2 linked regions of the Homo sapiens genome follow. The protein of the gene in region 1 interacts with the protein of each later gene in a biochemical or structural test. Each region holds a gene or a part of one and is shown in the gene's direction. Other genes may lie near its edges.

Region 1 (8,624 bases):
TGCAAATGTTCCTTAACCTCTCTGGCCCTCTATTTCCTCCTTTGAAAAGGAGAGTTAAAATCTTGCCCTCTCGGCATGAGGTTATTGGGAAGAATCAGAGGTATGATTGATAGGGTCATGGCACAGTGGTTAAGAGTATGAACCATGATCCCAGATATCTTGGGTTTAAATCCCACGTCTGCTATTTACCAGCTGTGTGACTTTGGGCAGTATACTTAATTCTCAGGTTTTCTATTTCTCATCTATAAAGGGAACATCATTATAGTACCTACCTCATAAAGTTGTTATGAGAATCAAATACATGTCAAATCCGTGGTACAGGGGTTGACAACAGTAATCCAAGTTTGCTCTAATTTGAATAAACGCAGTTCTTCTTACTATACTGTAAAGACTATATCTGACCAGGTGCAGTGGCTCACGACCTGTAATCCCAGCACTTTGGAAGTCTGAGGCAGGTGGATCACTTGAGCCCAGGAGTTCGAGACCAGCCTGGGCAACATGGCGAAACCCAGTCTCCACTAAAAACACAAAAATTAGCCGGGCGTGGTGGCACACACCTGTAGTCCCAGCTACTCAGGAGGCTGACGCACGAGTATCATTTGAACCCAGAAGGCGGAGGTTGCAGTGTGCTGAGATCACACCACTGCACTCCATCCAGCCTGGGTGATGGAGTGAGACTCTGTCTCAAAAAAAAAAAAACAAAAAAAATACTATATCTGGCTACAGTAGTATTCCCAATGCCTGCCACATAGTTGGTGATCAGTAAGTATTTATTTTAAAAATGATCTGGGATTTCAACCCACATCTGCATAACTCAAAACATTTATGCCAGTGATTCTCAATGTATGATCCAGGGCTGTCTGCCTGAATGGGCCTGACCCCAAGAATCAGAGCCCCTGGCTGGCCAGAACTCTGGATTTATCCTCTCCAGTTCAGCAATAGGCTCACAGTGTAACCTGGGCCAGTTCTCCCTCTCTAGGTCTCAGTTTCCCCATCTGTAAAAGTAAGGGCTCTCTGGGGTGAGGAGCTGTTTATCCACATGACCAGCCCTGCTCCATGGGGGCTCCTGGTATCTCAAGACACGCAACCTTCAAGCCACAAAGGATCGTCACTGACGTTACTACTTTTATTTTGTAAGCCCGCATGTCTCAGGGCTCATGTGTGTGTGTCTGTGCGTGTGCGTACACAGGCACACATTCAGATCTGCAGGTGATGTGGCTTGGGGAGAGGCTGCCATAAATATTAAACTCCCAACTCCAAAGTACCCTGCAGAGATTCAGAACTGCAGGAATTCATAACATCATTCTCTTTCAAGAGTCAGTGTTCTCAGGAGTGTGGGCACCGTCATAGAAAACTATCGAAAAGGAGAGTGAAGCATTAGAGAACTGCTGAGCTTGGAGGGAACTCGGAGCTCATTTAGTCCCTTGTTCCCGAAGCTCCAAGCACAATCCGTGGTCAGCAGCATCACCCTCACCAGGGAGCTTGTTAAAATGCAGAGGCTCAGCCCCAAGAGGAACATGATGGATCAAGATTTGCATCTAAACAAGATCCCTGGGGGACTTGACTGCACGTCTTTGTTTCTGAAAAGCTGTCCTAGTCCCCAGCCCTCATCTGCATTTGGGGGAAACATGAGGAACAGAGAGGGGTGGAGTTTGTTCCAGGTCCCCCAGCCCATTAGGAGCAGGGCCTTGACAAAAAACCTGTAAGACTTTGGAAAAGGATTCAAAGCTCTCTGCGAGAGGCAGGCGTTTGCACAAAAGATGAATAAGTGCAGAAGAAATGCTCAGTGTTGCTAATTGTGTCCAACAGGGTTCAGGCAAGAAAAGAGAATCCAACTGCATTGGTTCTTGGGATTTGAATAAAGTGGCTATTTCTAGAGTTGGGGGACAAGCTTGAGGAAACCAACCAGGGACTGTTTTTCCTAAGGCTCAAGCAGCAAAGAAAAGCATCTGGGTATCCCAGCCCAAGGAGATAATAGGAGCCAAGGACAAGGCCTTATCAGGAGGGACACAGCCAACTGCCACACTTGTGATCTAGAGAAGACAGCAGGGAAAAGTGCCCTGACATCTGACCTCCTGCCATGCCACCCTCTGGCTGAACCCAAGTAGAGATGAGGAAACTGAGTCACAAAGTGCCCAAAGTCACCCCGTGGGGGAGTCAGGATTCAAATCCAGGCCATCTGGCCCCAGAGTCCATAAAGATAAACATAAGGTTTGTTTATTCCTTTGGCAATTATCTACTATTTGCTGCTCAGTATTCTAGACACTATGGATTCCAAATTCTGGGTTTTTCAAAATCTTTTCAGTAACACTTTTGTAGTGAGAATATTATCGGTGGCGAGTCCGCAACACTCCCAGCCCTTGTCTTCTCAGAGGAAAGAATTCAATTGAGAGACGCAGGCAAGTTTTAAAGCAGAGGCAAAGGTTTATTGAAAGAAGCAAAGTACAACTGAGAGATCAAGTGCCCCGCTCAACCTTTGGCTCGGGGCTTTTATACACTGGCTTGGTTCTGGGGTTTCTTCTCCTCCTTGATTCCTCCCTTCGGTGGGCTGCTGCGCCCTCCCTGCATGCGCAATGGCCTGCCAGCACTTGGGAGGGGCCGCATGCGCAGTGTGTTTACTAAGGTTGTGCGCATGCTCACTTGGGGTGATTTTCCCTTACTGGTCCGTCGCCGCAAGAAAAAGGTCATATACAAGTCAGACTCCAACATTTGCCCTTCTGCTCGACCTTACCAGGGAATTGTGGTTTGCTGGCTCCAGATGATGTCAACTATCTGTTAGGGAACTCCTCTCCCTCTTGGCGCCATTCGTGGCCACTTATCATGTCAGAGGGACAGTTTTATGATCGCCTGTCCATCATTTGATGCACTGCCATTTCTGGGGGCCCTCTCCTGCACAAGAACACAATAAACAGCCTTGTTAAAAGAGTCCCTATTTCACTGCAATAAGACTGAGTGGTGGCCAGAGTGGTAGCAGCTGTTGCTTTTGTGGAATTGGATGGACAGCCTGGTAGGAGAAAGGCCCAGGGGTTCTGACCAGCAGTGGGGTCGTGCTGCTCCCTGAGGCCTCTGCTGGGTCCTGGGCCATCAGCAGGGACCTTAGCCAGCAGTGGGCACCTGCAGGGGTGGAGGCCAGGCCTGGGCCATGTGGCAGCTCTAAGGTCCAAAGATTGCTGCTGTGGGAAATTCCCACCCCTGCAAATGACTCCCAGCCAGGGACATCCTTAAACTGCTGCCAGAGGAAGAGTGACATCTATGTCCCCATAAGATCCTTATGCTCCAGAATGTCCTCCCCCACTCTCCTCCCCTCCTGGGCAGGCTGAGGTCCAGGAAGCAAAGGCCCCTAGGCACACTGGGGATGCACCTGTGAGCCCTTTCCTGCTCCAAAGCCTCCCAAAGGCTGGCTCCTTACCCTGAGGCCTCTGCTCAGCTTGTTGCCTCCCAAGAGAACCCTGCCCTGACCAGAGTTTTGGAATGGCATCCTGCAGACCTGGACTTAAATTCCTGCTGGGTGACTGCAGCCTACATCACTTCACCCTGCCAAACCTCAGTTTCTTCATCTCAAGACAAGACTAAAATATCCACCTGGGGTTGCTGATGCAAGGATGAGAGGAGACGTGCAGCTTAACCAGCACAGCGCCTGCACATAGTAGGTGCTCAATAAATATCAGTTTCTTTCCAATTTCTGCTGGGTGCTGCAAGGATCTCAGGAAATGGAAGACTCAGCCGTGCCTGCAAGGAGCCATCAGACTGGTGGTGTGGGGACTGAGGGGAGGGACGGATGAGGATCCCAACAAACCTCAGCCCCAGTGACAGGAGCAACACGGTACAGAGGAGCAGAGAGGCCTGGACTGTGGGGTTCCCTGTGCTTAACGTGGGACATTCTGATCTTAACCTCAGTGCCTGCCAGTGCTGTTTGTGACCTATTGGGAGTCACCCTGTTAATCCCACCACATTCAGTTGGTTGAGGCCATCATGAAAACCTGCCCAATTTCAAGGGAAGGGGGCAGAAACATTACCTTTTGATGGAAGGAATATCAAAGAATTCGTGGGCATATTTTTAAAGGACCACAATTATCAAAAAGCAGAGTGGTTAATGCTGTGGTGGGGAAAGCGCAAAGGGTTCTGGGACCTCAGAGGGGACCCTTTCTAGAATCCAGAGAAGCATGGGAGTGGTCAGGGAAGGCTTCCTGGGGGTGAGGGCAAAGCAGAACTCACAAATGTAAGCAGGGCTGGGGCAAAACTCTAAAAATTAAACACAGTCTGTACTATAAATTTTGTTTTCCAGAATGAAATTTTACTATCTTTACTTACTGCGAATATATGCCCGGGACCATACCCCCAAGAAAATAAAAATTTTAGAGGCTGGGCATGGTGGCCCAAGTCTATAATCCCAGTATTTTGGAAGGCCAAGCGGGAGGCTTACTTGAGCTCAGGAGTTCGACACCAGCCTGGGCAACATAGCAAGACCTCGTCCCTACTAAAATACAAAAAATTAGCTGGACATGGTGGCTCACACCTGTAGTCCCAGCTACTTAGGGGGCTGTGGTGGGAGGATCACTTGAGCCCAGGAAGTTGAGGTTGCAGCGAGCGATGTTCATGCCACTGGACTCCTGCTTGAGCAACAGAGTAGACTTTGTCTCAAAAAATGAAAAAAGAAAAAAAAATTGTACGTATCAACAAGCAAAAACTTTTTTAACACTTATAATTCTACCCCCACAACCAGAGACAATGCCTCATGACTCCTTGCTAAATATTTTCCAGATTGTTGAACATAGAAGCCTATTTTGAACCCCCCAAAATAGAACCTTACTCTATGGTGCCATCGGAAACGGATGCCTCATGACATCCCTTTCCTTGCCAAGAAATACCTTTATTTCTGCAGCCTCACTTTAAGGGGCATGTCATAATTCATTTAACCAATGCCCTTCTGGTGGATACATGAGGTTGGGTCTCACTTCTCCTGTCCTGTTTCCCACAGCATAGCAGTGGTATCTTGGAGCAGTGATTTACTGGCACACTGACTCAATTATGTATTTAAGGGCAAGTCCCTGAAATTGAATTCCTGGGTCACAGGGCATGCAACTGTTTAAACATTTGCCAATTGCCTTCCAGAAAATTTCACCACCAGCAAGGTTTGAGAAACACTGTTTTCCCATTGGGGGAAACATTTATTTTTTAAATAAACGAGCCAATATATTTTAAAAAAGAGAGTTTGGTTGGTGCCAGATGTAGCTTCACTCTCAACCCTGCCCTCTGCTGGGGGTGAGATCTCAAGGGAGCTATGTGGCTTTTTTGAACCTCAGTTTCCTCATCTGCTAAACCAGGCCTTCCTAGCCGAGCTCTTAAGAGACTGGCTGAGATGAGGCAAGATGAACAGTGATGAATATGGGGTCTTTCTGTGGGGAGGGTGGACAGGGATGATCATAGGAGTCAGGCTTCCTCATCCACTGATCTGGGCAGTGAAAACTGGCTTCTAAGTATGACCTTATGACTTCAGTGATGTCGCAAGCAGGTTCCAGTCCCTGTGCCTCCCCTTCCCGCTCCCAGGAACCCATCCAGCCTCAGGAACTGCCCCCAGCCATCGAGCCTTGGCTACTTAAGGGACCTGGGCCCAATCCACAGCTGGGACAGTCCTGGCCCACTGCACTGGGAATCTAGGATGGGGGCCTTGGCCAGAGCCCTGCCGTCCATACTGCTGGCATTGCTGCTTACGTCCACCCCAGAGGCTCTGGGTGCCAACCCCGGCTTGGTCGCCAGGATCACCGACAAGGGACTGCAGTATGGTAAGAAGCCACATCTGCTGGCTGGACTTGGCAAACCCACGCTCCAGGCTGCTCTGGGTACAGTGGGGACAGGGAGTGGGGACACAGACCGGACCCTCTCCCTGGGGCAGTGCCACCTTCTGGGTCAGGTGGCTCTGGCTCCTATTCTGGCCTTACTGCCCACCAGCTGAGTGCCCTGGGCATGTTATTTGTGGTAGTGAGGTCCTCCACCAGCCAACAGAACACAGCTTTGCGTGCAAGTAGTTGATTTGGGAAATGATTCCAGGAAACACTGTAGGGAATCGGTACTGAGATGAGGAAGGGAGGGCAGCCAGGAGAGAGTGTGCAATTAAACCAGCCACCACCTCTGATGATGGGAACCACTCAGCTGGGAAAATTCTGCGTAAAGTTTGGAAACACATGCCTCTGAACTGGAAGTCAGAATTGTGGTCACCTCTAGAGGCAGGCAGAGACCCTGAAGGGCATGAGGGAGGTCTGCCGGGGTGCTGGAAGTTGCCATATCTTGATCCAGGTGGTGATCACATTCCTGTATAAACATTAAAAATTATTTAGCAATACCTTTAAAATTTGTGCCCGTTAGGTACTTTATGTATATTATTCCTCAATTTTAAAGAATGGGCAGGCCAGGCACAGTGGCTCACGCCTGTAATCCCAGCACTTTGGGAGGCCGAGGTGGGTGGATAGCTTCAGGCCAGGAGTTCGAGGCAAGCCTGGCCAACATGGTGAAGCCTCGCCTCTCCTAAAAATACAAAAATTAGCCAGTCTTGGTGGCAGCCAACTGTAATCCCAGCTACTTGGGAGGCTGAGGCAGGAGAATCGCTTGAACCCGGGAGGCAGAGGTTGCAGTGAGCCGAGATCATGCTGCTGCATTGCAGCCTGGGCAACAGAGGGAGACTGTCTCAAAAAAATAAATAAAAATAAAACAAAGAATGAGCAAAAGTAGGAGTATTTTTTTTTAAATACTGAAACAAAGCCTCCCGACTATCCAGGTGGCATGGGAACTGGGATATTTATACACCACAGTGATTGATTGAGGGCTTCTGGGCCGGGGGTTTGTCAACTCCCCAGCACTTCTGTCCTGTTGCATGTACCTGCTTTCTGCAGTTCCAGGACAAAAAGCCTCGGGACATACAGGCTCAGGGAGGCAGACATTGGCAGCTGGGAGTCAACTGTCACTCACTGGAAAGACTCAAGGATATGGACAGGCACTGACCACATGTCTTCTCACATCCCTAGAGCCTCAATTGCCTTACCTATTAAATGAGATAACAACATTCCCTTAGATAGGGTTGTTGGGAGCCCAGACTGGCTCGAGACAGGCAGAGGGAAATCAGGGAAGGATTCCAGGATATAGTAAAATGGAAAAGACAGTGGGAATTACCCAGGGACAAGGGGTAGCGTTCCAGGCGGAAGGACCCCAACATGTGCGTTTGCTAGAGGGAGAAGAGCAAATTGGAAAGAGGTGAAAGGGGAGGCTGCTGGTCATCTGTGTACCCATGTCTGCCTTGGGGACAGAAACCTGGGCCCCTCAGATCTCGGAACAGTGGGACCTGGTAACTGCTACTTGCATTGAAACTGTAAATCAGGGAAGTTTCTCTTTTGTTCCTTTGCACTGTGCACACACACCATGTTTATGTAACCAGTCCTCTGAGGTTGGACATTTTGGTCCTTTCCATATTTTTTTTTTTTTTGAAACGGAGTCTCACTCTGTTGCCAGGCTGGAGTGCAATGGCACAATCTCAGCTCACTGCAACCTCCGACTCCCTGGTTCAAGTGATTCTCCTGCCTCAGCCTCCCGAGTAGCTGGGATTACAGGCACATGCTACCACGCCCAGCTAATTTTTGTATTTTTAGTAGAGACAGGATTTCACTATGTTGGCCAGGATGGTCTCGATGATCCACCCGCCTCGGCCTCCCAAAGTGCTGGGATTACAGGCGTGAGCCACTGCGCCCGACCCCTTTCCATATTTTTAATAATATAAACCCTATTTGCTGTTCCAGGCATTTACTGAGTGCCTGCTGTGTGTCAGGCACCAAGCTAGGAGTGCTTGTTATCCTCACAGCCCCCTTCTTGCTTTGCAGTTTCAATGGCATGCCAATGAGGAAAGTTTAGTTTAGTTTAGTTTAGTTTAGTTTAGTTTAGTTTAGTTTTGTTTTGTTTTGTTTTGTTTGAGACAGAGTCTCACTCTGTCGCCCAGGCTAGAGTGCGGTAGTGCGATCTCGGCTCACTGCAATCTCTGCCTCCCGGGTTCAAGTGATTCTCCTGCCTCAGCCTCCTGAGTAGCTGAGACTACAGGTGCCTGCCACCATGCCCGGCTAATTTTTGTATTTTTTAGCAGAGATGAAGTTTCACCATATTGGCCAGGCTGGTCTCGAACTCCTGACCTCAGGTGATCTGCCCTCCTCGGCCTCCCAAAGTGCTGGGATTACAGGCGTGAGCCACCACGCCCAGCAAATGTATTGTTGTCATTGCTATTTGACAGATGAACAAAGTGAAGGTTGTTTGGGGACTTTGTCAAAGTCACCCAGCTAGAAAGATGCCCTCTTTCTCTAGCCCCCAGATCCTTCCAGTTTCTTCTACACAGGCCAGATGTCATGGAGAACAAGAAGGAGGACTATCCGTCCAAGCGCACAGCACTTTTGCCCTTGGGGATTTGTTGGCAAAGGCATTCCATTTCCTCATCAGTAAAATGGGCATGAACCTAACAATGCCACAGAAATGCAGGGACACCTCTGAATGTCCCTCATGCTACCTGGCACACAGAGGGGCTCATATCCTGTCATTGTACTTAATGCTAATAAGGATGTTGGCCCCTCTCTTGAGGACAGGTGGGAGCCACC
Region 2 (6,895 bases), on another chromosome or scaffold:
GTTCTTATTTGCAGAGGAAACCTTCAAATCCTAGGCTTCAGAGAGAATGGGTTGTAAAATGTTTCTTATCAAACTTAAAGTCTGTGTTGATGTTAACGGTAGAGAGGTATAATGAGGCACGTTCAACCCCTACTTCCCATCATGGCCTGAAACGGTCACTCGGGTTTAATTTTGAAAGAGCCCTGGCTGAGGAGGAAGTCCATTCAGATGGTTGTGGGGGGCGGCCTTAGAATTTTATTTTTGCTTTACAGAATGTTCACCACAATGACCATTATTCTCATTTTATATGTGATGAAAATGAGAAAGATATCATTATTTCACTTCTCTGCATAAAACTGAATTCCCATAATTTTTAGGATAAAATCTTTCACCAAATGTGGAGTGCCACTAGTCTACTAGGCACTGAGGAAACACTAGTGAATAAAAAACCGTGTTCCTCACATTCAAAATTGGAATTGTGGCCGACTTAGCCCTACATGGTCTAACCCCTGCATACCTCTCCAATCTGGACTCACCTCTTCTGGGACCTTCTCTTTGTCAACAAGCCCTGTTCTTTTTCTCCTCCACCCTACTCCCACTCTTGGGGGAGGCTCTCGCACAAGCTGTTTTCTCTGCCTGCATCCTTCCCTTTTCTTTCTACCAGCATCCTTCCCTCAACACCATTCTCAACATGTCAAGTCCAGTGTCACCTACTCAGAACCATTGTACCAATGACCCAGCTTCTTCACAACCCTTTTCACAGCTATCATTAAGTTATAGTGTAATTATTTGATGTTGTCTCCTCCCAGACCCCCTTGGCAGCTCCAGAAGATTAGGGTCCCGGTGGCACCTAAGAATTTTTACAGGAAACCTCTAATTTTTAAAAAGCCATATAACTTAGGCAAAGGTTCAATTAAGTACAAATCTAGGAAAAAGGTTATTCTTAAAACCAATTTCTTTCCCTTGAACTTAATTCTACCCCTTGGAGTTAATCAATGAAGTCTGCAATCTCTTCCACAAAACAGCATGTTAAAATATCTACAGGCCATCATTCCATCCTCCATATCTTCTCTCCCAGTATCCATCCAGCCCCTGGAGAGCCATTTACTGAGTACCTGCTGTGCACCATGCTCTGGCCAGGGATAGGGCCTGGATCTTGAGCCCTTCCTCATGCAACTGTCTGGCTTCTTTTTTTAATTTTTTAATTAAAAAAAATTTATTTTCTTATTTCCCCAAGAAAAACTTTTTTATTTTTATTTTATTTATTTATTTTTTTTTTTGAGCCAGGGTCTTGCTCGGTTGCCCACGCTGCAGTGCAGTAGTGCAATCATGGCTTATCACAGCCTGGAACTCAGCCTTAAATGATCCTTTCAGCTTGGCCTCCCAAAGTGCTAGAATTACTGGCATGAGCCACTGCACCTAACCCAGGCTAGCTTCTAAGACCCACACTTGGCCCAGCAAGGTGGCTCATGCCTATAATCCCAGCACTTTGGGAGATGGAGGCAGGTGGATCACCTGAGGTCAGGAGTTCGAGACCAGCATGACCAACATGGTGAAACCCCGTCTCTACTAAAAATGCAAAATTAACCAGGTGTGGTGGCACGTGCTTGTAATCCCAGCTACTCAGGAGACTGAGGCAGGAGACTCGCTTGAACCCAGGAGGTGGAGGTTGCGATGAGCCAAGATTGCATCATTGCACTCCAGCCTGGGCAACAAGAGTGAAACTCCATCTAAAACAACAACAATAACAACAACAACAAAACCCACATGTGCTCCAGGTGGGGAAGATGAAAAAAGTTCCCAGCCAAAAGCTATATTCTGCCCAGTGTCTGCTCAGACAGCTACAGCTGCCCAAATTGCCTTTCTGTATCTACCTGTCTAGCAACACTGTTAACCCTGTAAGAACCAGCCCCATGTCCTGTCTTGTACAGGGCTGGCTGTTCCTTTCTCCAGACCATGTTCCTCCCCTCCACCCCTCTCCCCCAACAACACAAGCCTTTGGTTTCTCTTCTTTTAAGAGCCCTCTGCACTATGGACGGAAGTTCTGGGTTCATGTTTGCTCTACCCACCTCCTGGAGCACTTCAGGGACTTGTCTTTGTCATGTCTGTGTCCCAGGGCTTTCTACCAACCCTAGTACTCGGTAGACAAATGATAGACATTTGTTGAATCAAGCTGTGAGTTGGAGATCTTTGCAGAACCATCACTGCCCCTCTTAACTTGGAACTCCCCACCCAGAGTGCCTCCCCTAAGATGATGAGGTGTCAGACTTCAGTGGCCTGAGTTCTCTGAAAGCAGAGACTCTGAGAAAGAAGACTAGTCATCAAGACCACACTAAAAAGATGTGTTTCTGTGCCAAAGACTTTACTCACAAACAGGTAATACTATCATCTCCATTTTACAGAAGGGAGGCCCAAGTCTCATAACCTCAGTCGTAAAGCTGGGATTCCAAGACTGGCTATCTGACTTTGAGTCAGATATAATCATATCTTGGTCCTCAGGGATATCACAGAGGCCTGGCATGGCACCAGGGCATGGCCCAGTGCATTGGGGTATGCCCAACAGGACCCGCAGGGGGCAGTGATGAGCCTTCTTGTTTGGATTGGGGACAAATCTGCAGCTACTTCTTTCTCAATTAAAGAGGAAGTGGGAATTTAAAAAAGACTTTCTGCCGGGCACGGTGGCTCATGCCTGTAATCCCAGCACTTTGGGAGGCCGAGGCAGGTGAATCACCTGAGGTCGGGAGTTCGAGACCAGCCTGACCAACATGGAGAAACCCCATCTCTACTAAAAATACAAAATTAGCCGGGTGTAGTGGCACATGCCTGTAATCCCAGCCGCTCGGGAAGCTGAGGCAGGAGAATTGCTGGAACCTGGGAGGCGGAGATTGCAGTGAGCTGAGATCGCGCCCAGCCTGGGCAACAAGAACAAAACTCCGTCTCAAATAAATAAATAAAAGTAAAAAAGACTTTCAGGCCGGGTGTGGTGGCTCTCGCCTGTAATCCCAGCACTTTGAGAGGCCAAGGCGGGCGGATCACCTGAGGTCAGGAGTGCCTGGTCAACATAGTGAAACTCTGTCTCTACTAAAACTACAAAAATTAGCCGGGCATGGTGGTGGGCTCCTGTAATCCCAGCTACTCAGGAATCTGAGGCAAGAGAATTGCTTGAACTTGGGAGGCGGAGGTTGCAGTGAGCCAAGATCACGCCACTGCACTCCAGCCTGGGCAACAGAGCCAAACTCAGTCTCAAAAAAAAAAAAAAAAAAAAAGACTTTCATATAGTTCTTTCCCCAGAGGTCTAGGGATGTGGACCTGTGAGGGCTGTTGTAAATGCGTAGCTCCTTATTCTCTGGGACATTTGTTGTTTTTTTGTTTTGTTTTGTTTGCTGTTTTTTTCATTTTGTTTTGTTTTCTGTTTTTGTCTGTTTTTTGCGAAACTGGTGAGTTACTAATTAATCCTCATTCAACATAGTCCCATCCCTTCCTTCCTAGGGCACAGAGATTGTACTGAGGGGAGGGCAGGAGAGAGCAACGTGCAAGTGGGAAAACTGATTCAAAATACCTTGCTTCACAATTTCAGGACAGAAAATGGATAGTGTAAGTGACCCAGAGACTTGGCCAATGTGTCTCTGTTAAATACATCCACTTTTAAGAAAGTTAGTACTGCCAGGCACAGTGGCTCACGCCTGTAATCCCAGCACTTTGGGAGGCCGAGGCGGGTGGATCACAAGGTCAGGAGTTCAAGACCAGCCTGGCCAAGATGATGAAAACCTGTCTCTACTAAAAAATACAAAAATTAGCTGGGTGTGGTGGTGGGCACTTGTAATCCCAGCTACTCGGGAGGCTGAGGCAGAGAATTGCTTGAACCCAGGAGGCGGAGGTTGCAGTGAGCCGAGATCATGGCACTCTACTCCAGCCTGAGCAACAGAGCAAGACTCTATCTCAAAAAAAAAAAAAAAAAAGAAAGAAAGTTATTACTTAATCAAAGGAGCAAGGAAAAAAAAAGGAAGGGGGAATTTTTCTTTAGACCAACTTCCTTTTCTTGAACCTAATTCTACCCCCCTTGGTGCCAACAGATGAGGTTCACAATCTCTTCCACAAAACATGCAGTTAAATATCTGAGGATATTCAGGGACTTGGATTTGGTGGCAGGAGATCAACATAAACCAAGACAAGGAAGAAGTCAAAGAAATGAATCAAGTAGATTCTCTGGGATATAAGGTAGGGGGATTGGGGGGTTGGATAGTGCAGAGTATGGTACTGGCCTAAGGCACTGAGGATCATCCTTTTCCCACACCCACCAGAGAAGGCTTAGGCTCCCGAGTCAACAGGGCATTCACCGCCTGGGGCGCCTGAGTCATCAGGACACTGCCAGGAGACACAGAACCCTAGATGCCCTGCAGAATCCTTCCTGTTACGGTCCCCCTCCCTGAAACATCCTTCATTGCAATATTTCCAGGAAAGGAAGGGGGCTGGCTCGGAGGAAGAGAGGTGGGGAGGTGATCAGGGTTCACAGAGGAGGGAACTGAATGACATCCCAGGATTACATAAACTGTCAGAGGCAGCCGAAGAGTTCACAAGTGTGAAGCCTGGAAGCCGGCGGGTGCCGCTGTGTAGGAAAGAAGCTAAAGCACTTCCAGAGCCTGTCCGGAGCTCAGAGGTTCGGAAGACTTATCGACCATGGTGAGTGTAGGGTCTTGGGGTCGAACGCGTGCCACTCGGGAGCCACAGGGGTTGGATGGGGCCTCCTAGACCTCTGCTCTCTCCCCAGGAGCGCGCGTCCTGCTTGTTGCTGCTGCTGCTGCCGCTGGTGCACGTCTCTGCGACCACGCCAGAACCTTGTGAGCTGGACGATGAAGATTTCCGCTGCGTCTGCAACTTCTCCGAACCTCAGCCCGACTGGTCCGAAGCCTTCCAGTGTGTGTCTGCAGTAGAGGTGGAGATCCATGCCGGCGGTCTCAACCTAGAGCCGTTTCTAAAGCGCGTCGATGCGGACGCCGACCCGCGGCAGTATGCTGACACGGTCAAGGCTCTCCGCGTGCGGCGGCTCACAGTGGGAGCCGCACAGGTTCCTGCTCAGCTACTGGTAGGCGCCCTGCGTGTGCTAGCGTACTCCCGCCTCAAGGAACTGACGCTCGAGGACCTAAAGATAACCGGCACCATGCCTCCGCTGCCTCTGGAAGCCACAGGACTTGCACTTTCCAGCTTGCGCCTACGCAACGTGTCGTGGGCGACAGGGCGTTCTTGGCTCGCCGAGCTGCAGCAGTGGCTCAAGCCAGGCCTCAAGGTACTGAGCATTGCCCAAGCACACTCGCCTGCCTTTTCCTGCGAACAGGTTCGCGCCTTCCCGGCCCTTACCAGCCTAGACCTGTCTGACAATCCTGGACTGGGCGAACGCGGACTGATGGCGGCTCTCTGTCCCCACAAGTTCCCGGCCATCCAGAATCTAGCGCTGCGCAACACAGGAATGGAGACGCCCACAGGCGTGTGCGCCGCACTGGCGGCGGCAGGTGTGCAGCCCCACAGCCTAGACCTCAGCCACAACTCGCTGCGCGCCACCGTAAACCCTAGCGCTCCGAGATGCATGTGGTCCAGCGCCCTGAACTCCCTCAATCTGTCGTTCGCTGGGCTGGAACAGGTGCCTAAAGGACTGCCAGCCAAGCTCAGAGTGCTCGATCTCAGCTGCAACAGACTGAACAGGGCGCCGCAGCCTGACGAGCTGCCCGAGGTGGATAACCTGACACTGGACGGGAATCCCTTCCTGGTCCCTGGAACTGCCCTCCCCCACGAGGGCTCAATGAACTCCGGCGTGGTCCCAGCCTGTGCACGTTCGACCCTGTCGGTGGGGGTGTCGGGAACCCTGGTGCTGCTCCAAGGGGCCCGGGGCTTTGCCTAAGATCCAAGACAGAATAATGAATGGACTCAAACTGCCTTGGCTTCAGGGGAGTCCCGTCAGGACGTTGAGGACTTTTCGACCAATTCAACCCTTTGCCCCACCTTTATTAAAATCTTAAACAACGGGTCCGTGTCATTCATTTAACAGACCTTTATTGGATGTCTGCTATGTGCTGGGCACAGTGCTGGATGGGGAATTCATCATACTTAGGCTTTCTTCATCCTAACTCCCTAAGAAACCCTATCTGTCCTCCTCAAGAAAAGAACTGCGGGGATAGAAGGAGCCAGGAAAGGACTCCTGGCTAGGGCTGCATGGGAGAAACAATGAGTGTGCAGTCAGGGCTTTCTGAGCAGATTATTGGCATCTGGATTAAAAGGTATTTGCATGATATTTGGAAGATACAAAATATTTCCTCTCCTATGCACTTCCCAAGAGCCAGCTGCTCCCTTTCAAAGGTAATAAAACCCACAGCCATTTGCTTATTTCCTTATTCTTTCTCTCTCTCACACACACACACACTCACACACCCTCCCTCTCCCTCTCTGTCTGTCTCCCTTACCACTCAAGGAAGAGGGACAGCCTCCTATCCTGCACAAGCTCTGAGTTTCATAATATTAGGGTTCCTCTCTTGTAAAACCTCTCTTCACCCGGAGGCTTTCACTGTGTCACTCCCCGACATAATGGGAAATTTGGGCCTAGGGAACTGACGCAAGATACAGTCGGTCTCTGAATTAGAGATCCTGTGTTCTGTTAGAACACATATGCAGATAACCTTTTCAGGCTGACTGATTGGCAAATAGGAAAGCATCTCAGACTCTTCAAAACTTCAGAATAAACAGGATTTGTCCTCTAGTCCACATTAGCTCAGAGACCTACAGCATCAGCCATCAAGAGGTGCTGTTTCTTCTGAGCCCCTTCTTCATTTCAATGAGGAGGCAGCCACATCCATCAGAGAGCTAGATGCCTGCCTCACAGGGAGCATGGGAGAAAGGTGGGAGGAGGCATATAGGCCCAGCACCTGCC

Evidence for each region.
Region 2: the proteins of LBP (region 1) and CD14 form a complex in vitro, tested with the Homo sapiens proteins (one study listed by BioGRID).

The regions. Positions count from the first base shown.
Region 1 is NC_000020.11:38,340,858-38,349,481, forward strand, and holds the start of LBP (lipopolysaccharide-binding protein precursor), read left to right. Parts: upstream 1-5,624; 5' UTR 5,625-5,659; coding exon 5,660-5,783; intron 5,784-8,624. UniProt on the Homo sapiens protein: Plays a role in the innate immune response. Binds to the lipid A moiety of bacterial lipopolysaccharides (LPS), a glycolipid present in the outer membrane of all Gram-negative bacteria.
Region 2 is NC_000005.10:140,630,833-140,637,727, reverse strand, and holds CD14 (monocyte differentiation antigen CD14 precursor), read left to right. Parts: upstream 1-4,552; 5' UTR 4,553-4,656; coding exon 4,657-4,659; intron 4,660-4,747; coding exon 4,748-5,872; 3' UTR 5,873-5,996; downstream 5,997-6,895. UniProt on the Homo sapiens protein: Coreceptor for bacterial lipopolysaccharide. In concert with LBP, binds to monomeric lipopolysaccharide and delivers it to the LY96/TLR4 complex, thereby mediating the innate immune response to bacterial lipopolysaccharide (LPS).